2 separate regions of the Homo sapiens genome follow, and region 1 is linked to region 2. Evidence: fine-mapped expression QTL. A gene starts in region 2. The other region holds a variant in brackets. All regions are shown on one strand. Distances are between the middles of the regions.

The links.
Region 1: its variant is fine-mapped to the expression of CDC42SE1 in CD4 T cells (CEDAR, PIP 0.95).

Annotation. Positions count from the first base shown.
Region 1 is chr1:151,105,460-151,113,790 of GRCh38, reverse strand. It overlaps GABPB2 (GA binding protein transcription factor subunit beta 2), which reads right to left. Exons shown (of 9, transcript NM_144618.3): 7 at 6,569-6,754. It also overlaps the pseudogene RPS29P29. Among named protein-coding and RNA genes, the nearest start is that of SEMA6C, 37 kb to the left of the region's middle. The variant TAA/A (reference allele first, on the strand shown) is at 4,491.
Region 2 is chr1:151,056,252-151,064,582 of GRCh38, reverse strand. CDC42SE1 (CDC42 small effector 1) reads left to right here and starts at 4,961. Exons shown (of 5, transcript NM_020239.4): 1 at 4,961-5,104. MLLT11 (MLLT11 transcription factor 7 cofactor) reads right to left here and starts at 4,186. Exons shown (of 2, transcript NM_006818.4): 1 at 4,030-4,186. RefSeq lists an enhancer at 4,049-4,640 and silencers at 6,504-6,553, 6,564-6,623.

The sequences.
Region 1 (8,331 bases), 49 kb before region 2:
ATCCCAGCACTTTGGGAGGCCAAGGTGGGCGGATCACCTGAGGTCAGGAGTTCGAGACCAGCTTGGCCAACATGGCAAAACCCTGTCTCTACCAAAAATACAAAAAATTAGGTGGGCATGGTGGCATGTGCCTGTAATCCCAGCAATAGATTTCTCTGTATTATTTCTTAGAACTGTACTGAATCTTTAATGATCTAAAAATAAAAAGTTAAAAATTATATTTACGTTTTAGGATATATTATGATTATTTTAAAACAGAAGATTTGGCCAGACACGGTAGCTCATGCCTGTAATCACAGCATTTTTTTTTTTTTTTTTTTTGCAGTTGGAGTCTCCCTCTGTTGCCCAGGTTGGAGTGCAGTGGCACGATCTCTGCTCACTGCAAGCTCCGCCTCCGGGGTTCACCCCATTCTCCTGACTCAGCCTCCGGAGTAGCAGGGACTACAGGTGCACGCCACCAGGCCTGGCTAATTTTTTTGTATTTTTAGTAGAGACAGGGTTTCACCGCGTTAGCCAGGATGGTCTCGATCTCCTGACCTCATGATCTGTCCACCTCGGCCTCCCAAAGTGCTGGGATTACAGGTGTGAGCCACCGCACCCGGCCAATCACAGCATTTTGGGAGGCCAAAGTGGGAGGAAAGCTTGAGTCTAGGAGTCTGAGACCAGCCTGGGAAGCTTAGCAAGACCTCATTTCTATTAAAAAAAAAAATTGAGGGGCTAGGCGCAGTAGCTCATGCTTATAATCCCAACACTTTAGGGGCTGAGGTGGGCACATCACTAGGTCAAGAGATCAAGACCATCCTGGCCAACATGGTGAAACCCTGTCTCTACTAAAATACAAAAAAAAAAAAAATTAGCCAGGCGTGGTGGTGCACACCTGTAGTCCCAGCTACTCAGGAGGCTGAGGCAGGGGAATCACTTGAACCTGGGAGGCAGAGATTGCAGTGAGCCGAGACCATGCCACTGCACTCTAGCCTGGTGATAGAACGAGACTCTGTCTCAAAAAGAAAAAAAAAATTCGGGAGCTCCTTCCTTTTACCTCGTTGCACTCTTGAGAGCAAGATGGGTTACCAGCAGCTCTACTGGAGCCACCCACAAAAATTTGGCCAGGGTTCTTGCTCTTGTCATGTCTGCTCAAACCAGCATAGTCGGCCAGGTGCGGTGGCTCACACCTGTAATGCCAGTGCTTTGGGAGGCCGAGGCCGGCAGATCATGAGGTCAGGAGTTCAAGACCCGCCTGACCAACATGGTGAAACCCTGTCTCTACTAAAAATACAAAAAATTAGCCGGGCATGGTGGGAAACGCCTATAATTCTAGCTACTCAGGAGGCTGAGGCAGGAGAATCGCTTGAATCCGGGAGGCAGAGGTTGCAGTGAGCTGAGACCACACCATTGCACTCCAGCCTGGGCGACAGAGTGAGACTCTATCTCAAAAAACAAAAACAAAAACAACAACAAAAAGAAAAAATCAGCACAGTCTGATCCGGAAATATGGCCTCAATATATACCGTCAGCCTTTCCATCAGTACATGAAGGATATAGGTTTTTTTTTTTTTTTTTTTTTTTTGAGATGGAGTCTCGCTCTGTCGCCCAGGCTGGAGTGCAGTGGCGTGATTTCGGCTCACTGCAACCTCCACCTCCCGGGTTCATGCCATTCTCCTGCCTCAGCCTCCCGAGTAGCTGGGACTACGGGCGCCCACCACCACGCCCAGCTAATTTTTGGTATTTTTAGTAGAGTCAGGGTTTCACCATGTTAGCCAGGATGGTCTCGATCTCCTGACCTCGTGATCCGCCCGCCTCGGCCTCCCAAAGTGCTGGGATTACAGGTGTGAGCCACTGCGCCCAGCCACAGGATATAGGTTTCATTAAATTGGACTAAGTGATCTCTCTTGAATGGATTATCCAAGGCATGCACCCAATTAAAAACCATGTTAGCTCTTCATATATGAAAATTAAAGGCCGGGCACAGTGGCTCATGCCTGTAATCCCAGCACTTTGGGAGGCCGAGGCAGGTGGGTCACAAGGTCAGGAGTTCGAGACCATGGTGAAATCCTGTCTCTACTAAAAATACAAAAATTAGGCCGGGCGCGGTGGCTCACACCTGTAATCCCAGCACTTTGGGAGGCCGAGGCGGGTGGATCACGAGGTCAGGAGATCGAGACCACAGTGAAACCCCATCTCTACTAAAAATACAAAAAAAATTAGCCGGGCGTGGTGGCAGGCGCCTGTAGTCCCAGCTACTCAGGAGGCTGAGGCAGGAGAATGGCGTCAACCCGGGAGGTGGAGCTTGCGGTGAGCCGAGATCACGCCACTGCACTCCAGCCTGGGTGACAGAGCGAGACTCTGTCTCAAAAAAAAAGAAAAAAAAGAAAAAAAAAATTAGTGGGGGGCGGTGGTGGGCGCCTTGTAATCCCAGCTACTCAGGAGGCTGAGGTTGGAGAATTGCTTGAACCCAGGAGGTGGAGGTTGCAGTGAGCCGAGATTGCGCCACTGCACTCTAGCCTGGGTGACAGAGCAAGACTCCGTCTCAAAAAAAAAAAAAGAAAAAAAAAATTTCGGGAGCTGTAGCAGGAGGATCACTTGGGTCCTGAATATCAAGACTGCCGTAAGTCATGATCGTGCCACTGCACTCCAGGCTGGGGCCACCACATCTGGCTAATATTTGTATTTTTTCAGTAGACATGGGGTTTCACCGTGTTGGCAAGCTGGTCTTGAAATCCCGACCTCAAGCGCTCCTCCCGCCTCAGCCTCCCAAAGTGCTGGGATTACAGGTGTGAGCTACCATGTCTGGACAAAAATTTAAAAACAAAAACAAAAAAACAGAAGATTTACATAATCATTGGGTTTGGCAGATTTAAAAATTGGTTTGTATTTCTTTATAAACTCATCAACTGATGTCAGTGGAAAGCAGCTTAGATATATGTTGAGTAGAAATGGAAGTTTAGTCTGGGATTTAAATTTTTCTGCAGATAACTCATGAAATCTGTTTTCCTTCTTTGGGCCTTAAACATATTTGTAAAAAGTAGTATAGGCTGAGCACAGTGGCTCATGCCTGTAATCCTAGAACTTTAGGAAGCCAAGGTAGAAGGACTGCTTGAGCCCAGGAGTTTGAGGCCAGGCTGGGTAACATAGGAAGACCTTGTCTCTACGAAAAAGTAAAAAATTAGCTGGGTGTGGTGGCTTGCACCTGTGGTCCTAGCTACTTGGGACTTGAGGTGGGAGGACTGCTTGAGCCTAGGAGGTTGAGGTTGCAGGGAGCTGAGATTGCACCTCTAAATAAATAAATACATAAATTTAAAAAATAAAAATAAAAAAGTAGTATAGTTTATTTAGGTAAAACCTCAATTCTATTCTTTTTCTCCAAAACAACTCAGTTTTCATTTATTTATTTCCATTATAAGCAGAGTCTCTCACCTACCCAATGAGCCCTAAAAACTTAAAATGATAACTATGTTCACAAAAATATCAGCAATGCATAAATTAGAATTTATGATACCAAAGTTTGGATTATAATAAGTTTAATTCTTATCTTCCCATACTTTCTGATCCATCAGTTGAAATAATTAAAAAATTATAAATCCCAACACGGGCAACATAGTAAGACCCAGTCTGTACAAAAAATAAAAAAAGACCAGGGGTCGTGACTCACACCTGTAATCCCAGCACTTTGGGAGGCCAAGGCAGGCAGATCACTTGAGTTCAGGAGCTAGTGACCAGCCTGGCCAACATGGCGAAACCCTGTCTCTGCAAAAAAAAAAAAAAAAAAAAAAAAAAAAAAAAAAAAATTAGCTGGGCATGGTGGCACATGATTGTAATCCCATCTACTCCGGTGGCTGAGGCAGGAGAATCACTTGAACCCGGAAGGCGGAGACTGCAGTGTGCCGAGATCACGCCACTGCACTCCAGCCTGGGTGACAGACTGTGTCCCTGTCTAAAATTAAAAAAATAAAAAAATTAGCCAGGTGTGGTGGTGCATGCCTGTAGTCCCAGCTACTTGGGAGGCTGAGGTGAGAAGGTTGCTTGGGAAGTCGAGGCTGCAGTGCGCCATAATCATGCCACTGCATTCTAGCCTGGGCAACAAAGGGAGATCCTATCTCAAAAACAAAAACAAAACAAACAAAAAAAAACTATAGGCCGGGTGTGGTGGCTCACGCTTGTAATTCCAGCACTTTGGGAGGCCGAGGAGGGTGGATCACGAGGTCAGGAGTTCGAGACCAGGCTGACCAACATAGTGAAACCCCGTCTCTACTAAAAATACAAAAAAATTAGCCGGGCGTGGTGGCACACACCTGTAATCCCAGCTACTCAGGAGGCTGAGGCAGGAGAATCGCTTGAACCCAGGAGGTGGAGGTTGCAGTGAGCCGAGATTGTGCCACTGCACTCCAGCCTGGAGTGACAGAGCAAGATTCTGACTCAAAAAAAAAAATATATATATATATATATATATTTGTGTATATATATATATTTGTGTGTATATATATATATATATA[TAA/A]ATCCCCACAATCATTTAAGCCAAGTCAAAATTTTAGTGACATTAAGAAAGGAAATTATACCAGTACCCTTCGTTTCAACCTCCAATATACATTTTTATTTTTTAGAGACAATGTTTTGCTCTGTTGCCCAGGCTGGAGTGCAGTGGCATGATTATGGTAGCATACTGCGACCTTGAGCTCCTGGGCTCAACTGATCCTCCTGCCAAAACCTCCTGAGTAGTTGGGACTATAAGCACGTGCCATCAACCAGGCTATTTTTTAAAAAAATTGCGTAGAGATGAGGGGGTCTTGCTATGTTGCCCCAGCTGATTTGGAACTCTTGGTCTCAAGCAATCCTCCTGCCTTGGTCTCCCAAAGTGCTAGGATTACAGGATTACATATGTAAGCCATTGTGCCTGGCCAACCTCCAGTATTTTTAAGGCATGGAGTTGTAATGATGGGCTTCCTCTTTTCAAAAAATTTTAACTATGTCTTTTTTGAATAACTGATACATTAAATGATTAAAAACATCAAGACTATAAAAGCATATACATTGAAAAGCCTCCCACTCATCCTTAGTACCCAATTGCCCTCCCTGGAAGCAACTAATGTAATGCCTCAGTATACTAATGTATAGCCTCAGTCTGAATATAGCTGGGCATGGTGGCGTGGAACTGTAGCCCCAGCTTCTCAGGTGGCTGAGGCGGGAGGATAGCTTGAGCCCAGGAGGTCGAGGCTGCAGTGACCCATGATTGCACCACCGCACACAAGCCTGGGTGACAGAACAAGACCCAGTTACACACACAAAAAAGAAAAAAGAACTGTTTAACCAAAAGGTACACAACATCACTGGGTGTGATGACTCATACCTATAATCCCAGCACTCTGGGAGGCTTAGGCGGGAGGATCACTTGAGGTCTGGAGTTCAAGACCAGCCTGGCTAACATGGTAAAACCCTGTCTCTACTAAAAATACACAAAAATTAACTGGGCGTGTTGGTGTGCGCCTATAGTCCCAGCTACTCAGGAGGCTGAGGCACAAGAATTACTTGAACCAGGGAGCTGGAGGTTGCAGTGAGCCAAGATCCTGCCACTGCGCTCCAGCCTGGGCAACAAAGAGGAACTCCATCTCAAACAAACAAGCAAACAAAAAAACCCAAAGGTACATCTTTATGTACATCTTTAATACCTACAGATATTACCAATATCCTTTTTAGAGGATCCATTAATGTGCACTCTCACAAGTGATTTATAAGAGTGCTTGTTTCCCTATACCTTTAACAACATAGTGTTATAATGGTATGTCAGTACAGTATTTGCACTTCTCGTTATGAATGAAGTAGGTCGAAAATATTTTCTTTTTCTTTCTTTCCTTTTTTTTTTTAAAGACAGAGTCTCACTCTGTCATCCAGGCTGGTGTGCAGTAGCACAATCACGGCTCAGTACAGCCTCAACCTCCTGGGCTCAAGTGATCCTCCACTTCAGCCTCCTGAGTAGCTGGGACTATAGGCGTGCGCCACCATGCCTGGCTAATTTTTGTATTTTTAGTAGAGATGGGGTTTTGCTATTTTGGCCAGGCTGGTCTTGAACTCCTGCTCTCAAGTGATCCTCCTGCGTCAGCCTCCCAAAGTGCTGGGATTACAGCCGTGAGCCGCCTCACCCAGCTATTTTCATATTTTTAAGAGCCATCAGGGCCGGGCGCGGTGAACCCGGGTGCGTGAACCCAGGAGGCGGAGCCTGCAGTGAGCTGAGATTGCACCACTGCACTCCAGCCTGGGTGAGAGAGTGAGAATCCCTTCTGAAGAAAAAAAAAAAAAAAGAGCCATCAGTACATTTTTTTTCTGTGAACTATTGGTTCATATTATTTGTTATTTTTTCCACCAGATCAACTGGTTTTTACTACAGATTTTATACATATTAGGCAATTAGCTTTTGCCAGTCTGGTTCCGTTTCTTTTTCTTTTTCAGAGCTTCTTTGCCCCAACTTGCATCTGGCAATCTCCCACTTCCACTATTTGTCTTAATGCCTCATTTTTAGGTGAGTATGGAGTATCTAAAATATCTTTTAATAAACAATTGTCTACAAGAGATAACTCACCTTGCTGTCCATCTTGCACAGTTACAATAAATGGCTGGCCAATGCCTCCAGTAGGGATTGAAGTTTGGATATTACCCAGAGGGACTCCATCAGTCACTATGGTGATGACCCTCTGGCCTCCACTCCCCATTACTTGCTGGATTGATGAGTCAACGGAATTTCCTTCTATAATTTCCTCTGTATTGGCTAGAGATGACAAAAGCAAATTTAAAATTTCAGCTTTTTAAAAACATAGGAGTATAGCAATTTCAACCTCCTTGAACCTGACAACATTCAGGGAGAGGAACATTTGAAAAAAAAAAGTGAGATTCAACAGTTCGCAAAAGGTTTTGTGAACAATGCTAAGTCAGAGGAGAAAAGAAAACAGAATGCATTAGAACAGTATTTTGTAAAATGTGTTCACTGAGGTATTAATAACTTTCACTAAAGATGGATTCTATGTATAAATACGTTTTCAAAATTCTGGTTTAAACATGCTTAAACTTTTTTGTTTTGTAGGAGTATCAGAGACTTCAATAGGCTAATAAACATTGTGATTTTCCAACAGGGTGTGATTCTCCAACAGAGTATAAGATACTCTGTTTCGGCTGGGCACAGTGGCTCACGCCTGTAATCTCAGCACTTTGGGAGGCCAAGATGGGCGAATCACTTGAGGCCAGGAGTTAGAGACCAGCCTGGCCAACATGGCAAAACACTGTCTCTACTAAAAGTACAAAAATTAGTCAGGCATGGTGGCACGTGCCTGTAGTTCCAGCTACTTTGGAGGCTGAGGCACGAGAATCGCTTGAGCCTGGGAGGCAGAGGTTGCAGTGAGTCGAGATGGAGCCACTGCACTCCAGCCTGAGCGACAGAGCGAGACTCTGTCTCAAAAAACAAACAAAAAAACCAGATATGCTGTTTCCCCAACATATTTGATATTGGAACCCTTTTTTTTTCAGAAAGTATCTTGAAAGTCTAAAATGGCTGGGCACGGTGGCTCACGCCTGTAATCCCAGCACTTTGGGAGGCCGAGGTGGGCAGATCACCTGAGGTCAGGGGTTCGAGACCAGCCTGGCCAACATGGTGAAACCCCATCTCTACTAAAAATACAAAAATTAGCTGGGCGTGTTGGTGGGCGCCTGTAATCCCAGCTACTTGGAAGGCTGAGGCAGGGGAATTGCTTGAACCTGGGAGGCGGAGGTTGCAGTGAGCAAAGATCACGCCATTGCACTCCAGCCTGGGTGACAAGAGCGAGATTCCATCTCAAAAAAAAAAAAAATCTAAAATAACCATAAATTACAGTAGATCATTTCTATAAGAAAACAGGGATATTTAATAGTGAATTCACAGAATAATATGTGAAGTAGTCAAAATATTGAAGTTTGATAGACAAAAATGTTAGATGGCTTTTTTCCTCTGATAAATCAAGAATAATAGCTGGCTGGGTATGGTGGCTCACGCCCATAATCCCAGCACTTTGGGAGGCCACGGCAGGAGGACTGCTTGAGGCTGGGAGTTGAAGACCAGACTGAGCAGTGAGACCATCCCCCCAAATTTGAAAAATTAATTGAGCGTGGTGGCATGCACCTTTAGTCCTAGCTACTCAGGAGGCTGATGTGGGAGGATCACTTGAGCCCAGAAGTTGAAGCTGCAGTGAGCTCTGATTGTGCCACTGCACTCCAGCCTGGGTGACAGAATAACAGAATAAGATCCTGTCTGTATCAAAAGAAACCCCAAACATATATATATATACATATATGTTTATATTAAATGTATATCAAATA
Region 2 (8,331 bases):
TGAATTGCAAATAATCATTCTTTTCCAGAATCTGTCCCCATACCTAGGAGTTTCCCCAAGGGTAAAGACCAATCTACTTTCTCTGTACACAAGTGGTGGGCTTTGTACACAAAGCCATTCAAGGCTGCTGATTAACTTTCCCTCACTATTTAATTAATACCTTGCCATTCCCTTATATTAGCCCACAGGTAAGCCTTAACAATCCATTTCTCTCTAGCCTACCTCTCCTTCAGAACAAAACCTAGGTGCTAAAAGAACTTTCCTAGCCAGGTGCAGTGGCTTACGCCTATAATCCCAGCACTTTGGGAGGCCGAGGCAGGCAGATCAGGAGGTGAGGAGTTCAAGACCAGCCCAACCAACATGGTGAAATCCTGTCTCTATTAAAAATACAAAATTAGCCAGGCGAGGTGGCGCATGCCTGTAATCCCAGTTATTTGGGAGGCTGAGGCAGGAAAATTGCTTGAACCTGGGAGGTGGAGGTTGCAGTGAGCCGAGATCTCGCCATTGCACTCCAGCCTGGGCAACAAGAGCGAAACTCCATCTCAAAAAAAGTAATAATAAATAAATAAATAAATAACTTTCCTATGCTGTAACAGGGATCTCTTTTCTCTGATCCCAGTGCTCGAGTATACTGATGATAATGAGAGCAAATGGATTGGAAATCCATTTGGATTTAAAGTAAAGTTCAGATTGGAAGAAGGTATTTTAACAGAATCAGATACTCTTCCATGCGTTAATGGATCTATCACTTTCTCTACTCATTCTACCCAAGCCCTGCCTGATATTTTAGGACTATTAGAGCTGCCTACAGCCTCCACCCTGCTACTTACTAGCCAAGGGTCAAGAAGCATTAGTTGTGGTCGGGCGTGGTGGCTTACGCCTGTAATCCCAGCACTTTGGGAGGCCGAGGCGGGTGGATCACGAGGTCAGGAGATCGAGACCATCCTGGCTAACACGGTGAAACCCCGTCTCTACTAAAAGTACAAATATTAAGCCGGGCGCGGTGGTGGGCGCCTGTAGTCCCAGCTACTTGGGAGGCTGAGGCAGGAGAATGGCGCGAACCTGGGAGGCGGAGCTTGCGGTGAGCTGAGATAGCGCCACTGCACTCCAGCCTGGGCGAAAGAGCAAGACTCCGTCTCAATAATAATAATAATAAATAAATAAAAATTAAAAAAAGAAGCATTAGTTGAAATGTTCCCAAAGGAGCAGAAAGAACATTCTATCACCTCCAAAAACAGAACCCCAAGTTTCAAAAGGCCTTTCTCCAACACACCCTATTGGGTCTCACCAGGCCAGAGACTCCTAAATAATGGCCTTAAATAGGTTCCAAAATGCTCCAGTATAATGTGAAATGACTGTACTAAGGCAGAAAAAGAAAGTGTTAATCTAGAACACAGTGATGTGTGAGAGTGTGGGGGCTTCAGGAATGGTGAGTGGGTAGGCTAGGATGTTTTTAATGTTGAAAGTGAATTCTGAGTTGTTCTTTTTCTTAGTTTAAGTTCCAAAATAAACCCTGGGAACTGAGCATTACTCAGCAGAGAAGCTGCTTAGAAGGAGGGTGATGCCGGGATTGCAGCAGGGTCGGGGAGCATGTTGGAAAGGTGAGGTCATCATCCTATGATACTCAACTCTGATAATCTCCATAGTACTTTGCAGAGACGTGTGCAGAAAGAGAGCTACAAAAAATGGTTGTATCCATTAACCAACCACCCACTGCTTAAATCTGGGACTATAGAGATTCTAAGAAGCATACCTAGGAGTCAATACTGTTATGGACTTGTGGCTACAGGGATTCTTACTGTTACCAGTTATTTTCACAGCTAGCTGGGTTCTTTTCTCTATCCTACCTGACAAGTCTTCTCCAGAATGAGCTTAGTATAATGCAGGCCACATTATAGGCTCTTTAAAAAATAGAATCATGGGGCCAGGCGCGGTGGCACACGCCTGTAATCTCAGCACTTTGGGAGGCCGAGGCAGGTGGATCACAAGGTCAGGAATTCGAGACCAGCCTGGCCAAGATAGTGAAACCCCGTCTTTACTAAAAATACAAAAATTAGCCAGGTGTGGTGGCAGGCGCCTATAATCCCAGCTACTCGGGAGGCTGAGGCAGGAGAATCGCTTGAACTGGGGAGGTGGAGGTTGCAGTGAGCCAAGATTGCACCACTGCACTCCAGCCTGGGCAACAGAGCGAGACTCCATCTTAAAAAAAAAAAAAAAATAGAATCATGGGGGGAAAAAATCATAGAATTTTAAAACTAGAAGACATCTTAGAAATTAATGACTTGGGAAGACTTCCAGCCAGTTTGTATAGAATCCAGATCTCATAATTCCCAATCTGATCCCTTTTTGTGTTGTACATGGATAGTTGCCAACAGCTTTATATAACCCTATACCAGTATTCCCAAAACTTAAAAGAATTTTTAGTTGCTGAAGAATAGATTTTCCGTGGTTTAGGTGATTGTTCCTGTAATTGTGATCTGAATGGGGAAAAGCAAAGGGCAGTAGAGCAAGCTAGAATCTGAGAAAAAAAAAAAAGCTCTTCGACAAACTGACTCCTTTTCTTACAACCAGAGTATGTATAAAAAACTGCTCAAACAGTCCCTGAGTGTTTGGTAGAGCTATCTTGCAATTTAAAAAGCTAAAGCAAATTTTATGAAATATTAACTCAAAAGGCCTAAAATCTCTATGTCATTGACCCAGAGACATGTACACAGGGTACCAAATACATTCAAGAAAGACATGCATGCAAACATACGTGGCATTAAAATCAAGTCAAGAACATAAAGTAATACTACACAGAAAATTGAAGTTAAAATGCTATTCACTAATGTAAGTAGTAATGACATTTTTGATTTAATATAGTATGGATTTAATTATCAAATACTCCAAATTTCGCAAAAGATCCTTTTTTGGCTAGCTTCCCCTTCCCCTCCACAAATGCTCTCCAGCCCTACTTCATCTATCTTTACATCTTTCATTATCTTAAATGGTATCATTTACTTAAAGGGTTTTGACAGTGCCTTGTACCACAATATATGTTCAATAAATGCTTCCCACTATCCTTCACTTTAAATTATCCGGGTATTTTAGGCAAAGGCAATATCTAATTATCACTCTGTTCTTAGAGATACATGATTAGCAAATGTATAGATTAGAAAGATACACTCTCGGAGCCACACAGACACGCCCAAATATCCTTTGTCCAGACCCTTTGTGGGCATCCAAGGCCTACTCAACAGGGCCTTGCTGTGTCATGCTGCCACCATGGGGAAGGGGGAAGGACAAGGTGGTGGTGGTGGTAGAGGGGAGCAGAACCTCTCTGACATCTCATAATGTGTGCCTCAGTCAGAGCTTGGATTTTCCTACTAGCATTCCTCCACCAATTCCACTGAGCTGCAAATCATTCTTTTCCAGAATCTGTCCCCATACCTAGCTCCTGTGGGCTATACTGATTTCACTATGGAATCAGGCAGTTCTCCAACACAGAGGCCCCCACCTTTCCTACCCTAGGCTGCCTCTTTCTTTGGAGCAAAGATTCGAGGTGGAATGAAAGAGATTATCCAAAGAAAGGTCAGGATTACACCCAACATTATCCCATATAACCCCCTCCCAAACTCCCTCCTACAGAGAAACATAGAACACTACAGAAAAAAATTGCAAGTATAGGGAAGTAGAGGACAGAGAGATACAGTAGGACTAAAAATTAAACAGCTGGTAAAACAAATTATGGTTTGAAAAGGAAGATAAGTAGACTGAAGATATTAAATACACAGGACAATAAATTACAGAAAAGGATACTTGAAATGAGGTAGGTGCTGAGAAATAACTACAAGTAAATTGTTAGAGATTAATGGTCTGTATAAGGTAACAAGGCATGGATGCTGTGAAGAAATAACTACCCATTGTTCATAGCGCCCCCTTCTCTCCTCTTCAGCTGTCCCCCACCTCATGTGGGGTCTTTCAATCTAACCATAAGCAGCCGCTCTTCTATCTTTGCAGCCCCCTGCCCCCTCCCTCAGTTTGGTTTACCTGTTATCAATCAATTACTGGCGTGTTCCAAAGATGGAGGGAGTGCCTCGGGAGCTCCGGGGTCTGCGCCGGGCTGGAGAAATACAAAGCTGTTGGGGCTTTGACGGCTTTGTCTTCTCACTCCTTTTCCCTCTTCAGTGACTGAGTCTGTCAGTTCACTCTCCCCCTGCAATGCAGCCCCTCCTAAGAAGGGCGGAAGGATTCCCCGCCCCCTCCTGCCTGACTCGGCTAATTCAAATGATAGGTTCCAGAACACTTGAGGGAAGGAGAGACGATGAAAGCATCTCCCTAGGCTCATTGGTCTGCGCTATTATTCCCGATCTCTTCCAGCACCCCCGTGCTGACTGGGGGCCCAATGAATGAGCAGTTAATTGCCCTCTAATTTTAGGTCCTCTAATTTATGGATTTGAAATCTTAACTCTAGACTACAATGGAAAGGAGGAGTATTCCTTTCTTCCACAATTTAAGGACTTTAGGTTACAAAGTATTTTTAAGAATCAGAGTATTTTTCCACCCCTTCTCCCAATCCCTGCTCCTCCAGACTCGCCTCTCTACCCTCACAATGGGTAAATAAACCTAGTCCTATTCCATTTTGGGTAGAGCACAATAAATTTGGGGTGGGGGGCGTGCTTCTGCGAATCTCTGAACTTGGTTAGGTCTGGGGGTTTGGGGGGCTCCGCTTCGTTTTGCCCCGAAATGCCTGGCGAGTAAAGGGAACGTGAGATTCCGGGGGCCCCAGCTTGGGTGCCAGGGCCTCATCTAGGTGTCCGCATTCTCCAGTTCTCCCCGCAGGGGCGGCGGCCTTGAGGGGCTGCAGAGGCACCCTCCCACGTCCCGCGCAGTGCAGTGCCTCCGCAGTCCAGAGGGGAGCAGTGCGCCGGGCTCCGAGCCGGACGGGTTTCGTAATCGCGTCGCCGCCGCTTCCGCCCTCAGCCGGCCCCACCTCTGCCGGCTCGTACTCGGCTCCCCCACCTCGCCGCAGAGCTAGCCCGGGAAGCCCACACTGGCGGCCACGGAGCAGAGTCCCTCACCCCCACCAGCTGTAGCTGAACGTCTGGATGGTGGAGAAGAGCAGGTGAGGCCGTGCAGTTGGTCCCCTGGCCCGCCTGCCGCGCCGGCCGGGCCAGGCGGAGACACACCGGATGCGGGGTGTGGGGGAGGCGGGTGTCCTGGGCTGCAGAGATGCTGGGGTGGTGGGAAAGGGGTGCGCGCCCGGGGTGGCCGTAGTCATCCACGCTCCTGGGGTGCGCAGGCTGAGGCCGCTGAAGAGTAGAAGGAAAAGAAGGAACTGGAATGTTGGGGGAGGTGGGAGGGAGAGGGTCCGAAAGATTCCCAGAGAGGTCCCAGTCCGGTTAAGGGTTGAGAACAGCAGAGAACTTCTAGGTAGAGTTGTGTAGTGGGGGGAGACAGATACGGAATCTGTGTGATTGAATATATTTGGGGAGGGGAGGCTTAGGGCCTAGCCCTCTTTCCTCTTAAGCCCCCAGAAGACCTTTCCTGGGGAAGGGAAGGTTGGTGTTGGGCCTGTCACTTGGCTGAAATATGGAGTCCACACCGCTTCTCCAGAGTCCCTCAGCAGCCCTCCATGTCTCGGGGTCTCCACACAGGGACCAGCTGCTGCCCCGGGCTTCTAGCCAGAATTGCCCATGCCATTCTCTCGATTCTTTCTTTCTCTCCAGCTGCTTCATGTGAGGGCTTGTCAGGCCGCGGGTTGGAGGCCTTAGGGCCAGAGGCGGTGGGACCGGGAGAACCGGTTTGGGGCCCGAACAGGACCAGAGAACTAGCCTGTACATCCTTCCTCCCTGGCACCTCTTTCCCATCCCTTCTGCTCACCTCCCAACAGCTCTGAGACCCTCAAGTCCTAGTATGATCTTGGTGGGGGCGGGGGGTGGCTTTCCCGGTTCCATATTTCACTCTTGCCATTTGGAACTCAGAGAGGTCGAGTTCTGAGCACCACTTGGCTCTCAGGACGTGGCCTTATGAGGTCTAATCCTCATCCCTCCTGTTGTTTTCTCAGCCCCTTCCCTATTCACTGTGGGGTTGGATTCGGGTGGCTCTTCCGCCTGGGCTGACCAGCTCAGGACTTCATTTTTCCTCAACCCACTCTCTTCTGGCTGCTTTAAAGAAGAGTGGCCGCCAGTGGCTCTTACTTCCTTTTCTGGCTTTGTTCCCATCCCCCACTGCCCTGCGCTACCATCACATTCACCCTGACCTGTCTTCTTCACACTCTGACCCCACCCTCAAGTTTCAGAGACCCTAATGTCCTAGGGAATGGAATTTCCTGGTCACTTCTCGTCATCATTGGTCATTTCATGCCAAGTCCCACACACACGCTTTCCCTCCACCCAGCTCTGGTCAGGTCCCTGGAAAAGAAACAGAAATGGCCTTGTTCTCTCCACTGCCCCTTTCCCTCTCTCCTTCTCCTCCCCCTCTCTTCTCTTCCCTCCCAGCACTATCCACCTCTGTCCCTCAGCTTTGAGCAGAGTGGGGGATGTTGAGGGAGAGTCCAGTCACAGTACAGCCTGCCTGCTGGTGTTGGGGGTTTCCTCTAATTCTTCATTTTTCCCCAACCCTTACCACCTGCCACCACCACCATCAGGACAAACCCTATGACTGACTCACTGACGTCCCACTGACCACAGCTCCCCTCTCTGGACAGCGTGTTTTAGCTTCCGCTCCTTCTGGTTACTCCTCCCTTCCAGTGGTGAGAAGAGAAGAGAAAGCCCAGCCTCCTGGGTTCTCCCCTCCCCTAGAAGCTACATTTGAGTGTTTGTGTGATCTCATCTCAAGGCTGTTAAAAAAAAAAAAAACCTCTGTGTGTGTGTGTGTGTGTGTGTGTGTGTGTGTGTGTGTGTGTTTTGTATTTGAGACAGGGTCTTGTCCTGTCACCCAGGCTGGAGTGCAGGGGTGCAAACATGGCTCACTGTAGCCGCAACTCTTGGGCTCAAGTGATCCTCCTGCCTCAGCCTCCCCAGTAGCTGGGATGACAGGCACATGCTACCACACCCTGCTATCTCGTTTTTTTGTGTGTGTTTTTTTTGAGGCGGAGTTTCGCTCTTGTTGCCCAGGCTGGAGTGCAGTGGCGATCTCGGCTCACTGCAATCTCCGGTTCAAGCGATTCTCCTGCCTCAGCCTCCCAAGTAGCTGGGATTACAGGCATCCGCCACCACGCCCAGCTAATCTTTTGTATTTTTAGCAGAGATGGGGTTTCACCATGTTGGCCAGGCTGGTCTGGAACTCCTGACCTCAGGTGATCCGCCCACCTTGGCCTCCCAAAGTGCTGGGATTACAGGCGTGAGCCACCACGCCCGGCCTATCTCTTGTTTTTAAATCAGTCTAGGGTGCCAAAGCATCAGGGTTCCCGGCCTGCAAGAAAGGGAGATTCCTGTTCATGTTAAAGTGTCATATTTATGAAACTGCCCTTTTTGGAATCTTTGAGGTTGTCTGTACTATAGGACTGGGGAAATGCAAGTGAGTCTAAGAAGAAACCCAGATGTGTCCTACCCTGGCTGGCAGTAGTGAGAAGGGAGGAAGTTCTTCCTTGGACACTAGTACTATTGGAAAGTTCCTTATGTCTGGTTCACTGATGAAGCTTGAGGATAGAATTGGTGAGGAGGGAGGGGAGAACAGGTCACAGCTGGAGGGGAGCCTGGGCCCTATAGGGTGTGAGGCAGAGCAGAGTGGCAGATAGGACATGTGGACGGTGGGGAAAATATTCCTCATGGGACAGAAGATACCTGGCACATGTACCCACAACCTGTACACAGATGATCTGTACTGGACACACGTGGAGATATGGCCATGCCACGCATGTGCAAACAGAGGTGTACACACAGGAGTGCAGTGATACAGGACACAGATAAACAGAATGTACACAGCCTTCAGGAAGGATCTCAAGGTCAGGTAATAAAGGAACTGCTGCTGACTGGCTTCTGGGAGGGATTGGATTTCACTGGAGGGAAATCAGGAGGAATAGGGCAGCAAACAGAGAGGGAAGAAATTCCTTATTGTAGAAAGTCTTTCCTGAGGGCCAACCTGCCAGTTAGTCTCCTAGGACCTCAGTGGTCCAGGGCTCTCCTGTTCTTAAAGAAACTCTAGGCGTTCAGGGCAAGGTAAGAAAAAAGGCAGGGACAGGGTGGAGACCTTGTTTGTGAGAACAAAAAACCACTATTTCCTCTTCAGAGTCACTTAAATGCCCCTCCCCTTCTGCCCTAAACTCAGAGAGAAGGGAGCTGGAGCTTGTATCACCCCAAACTTTGCTAATTTCTGCCACTATCCTTTGGTCCTCGCCCATCCTCTTAA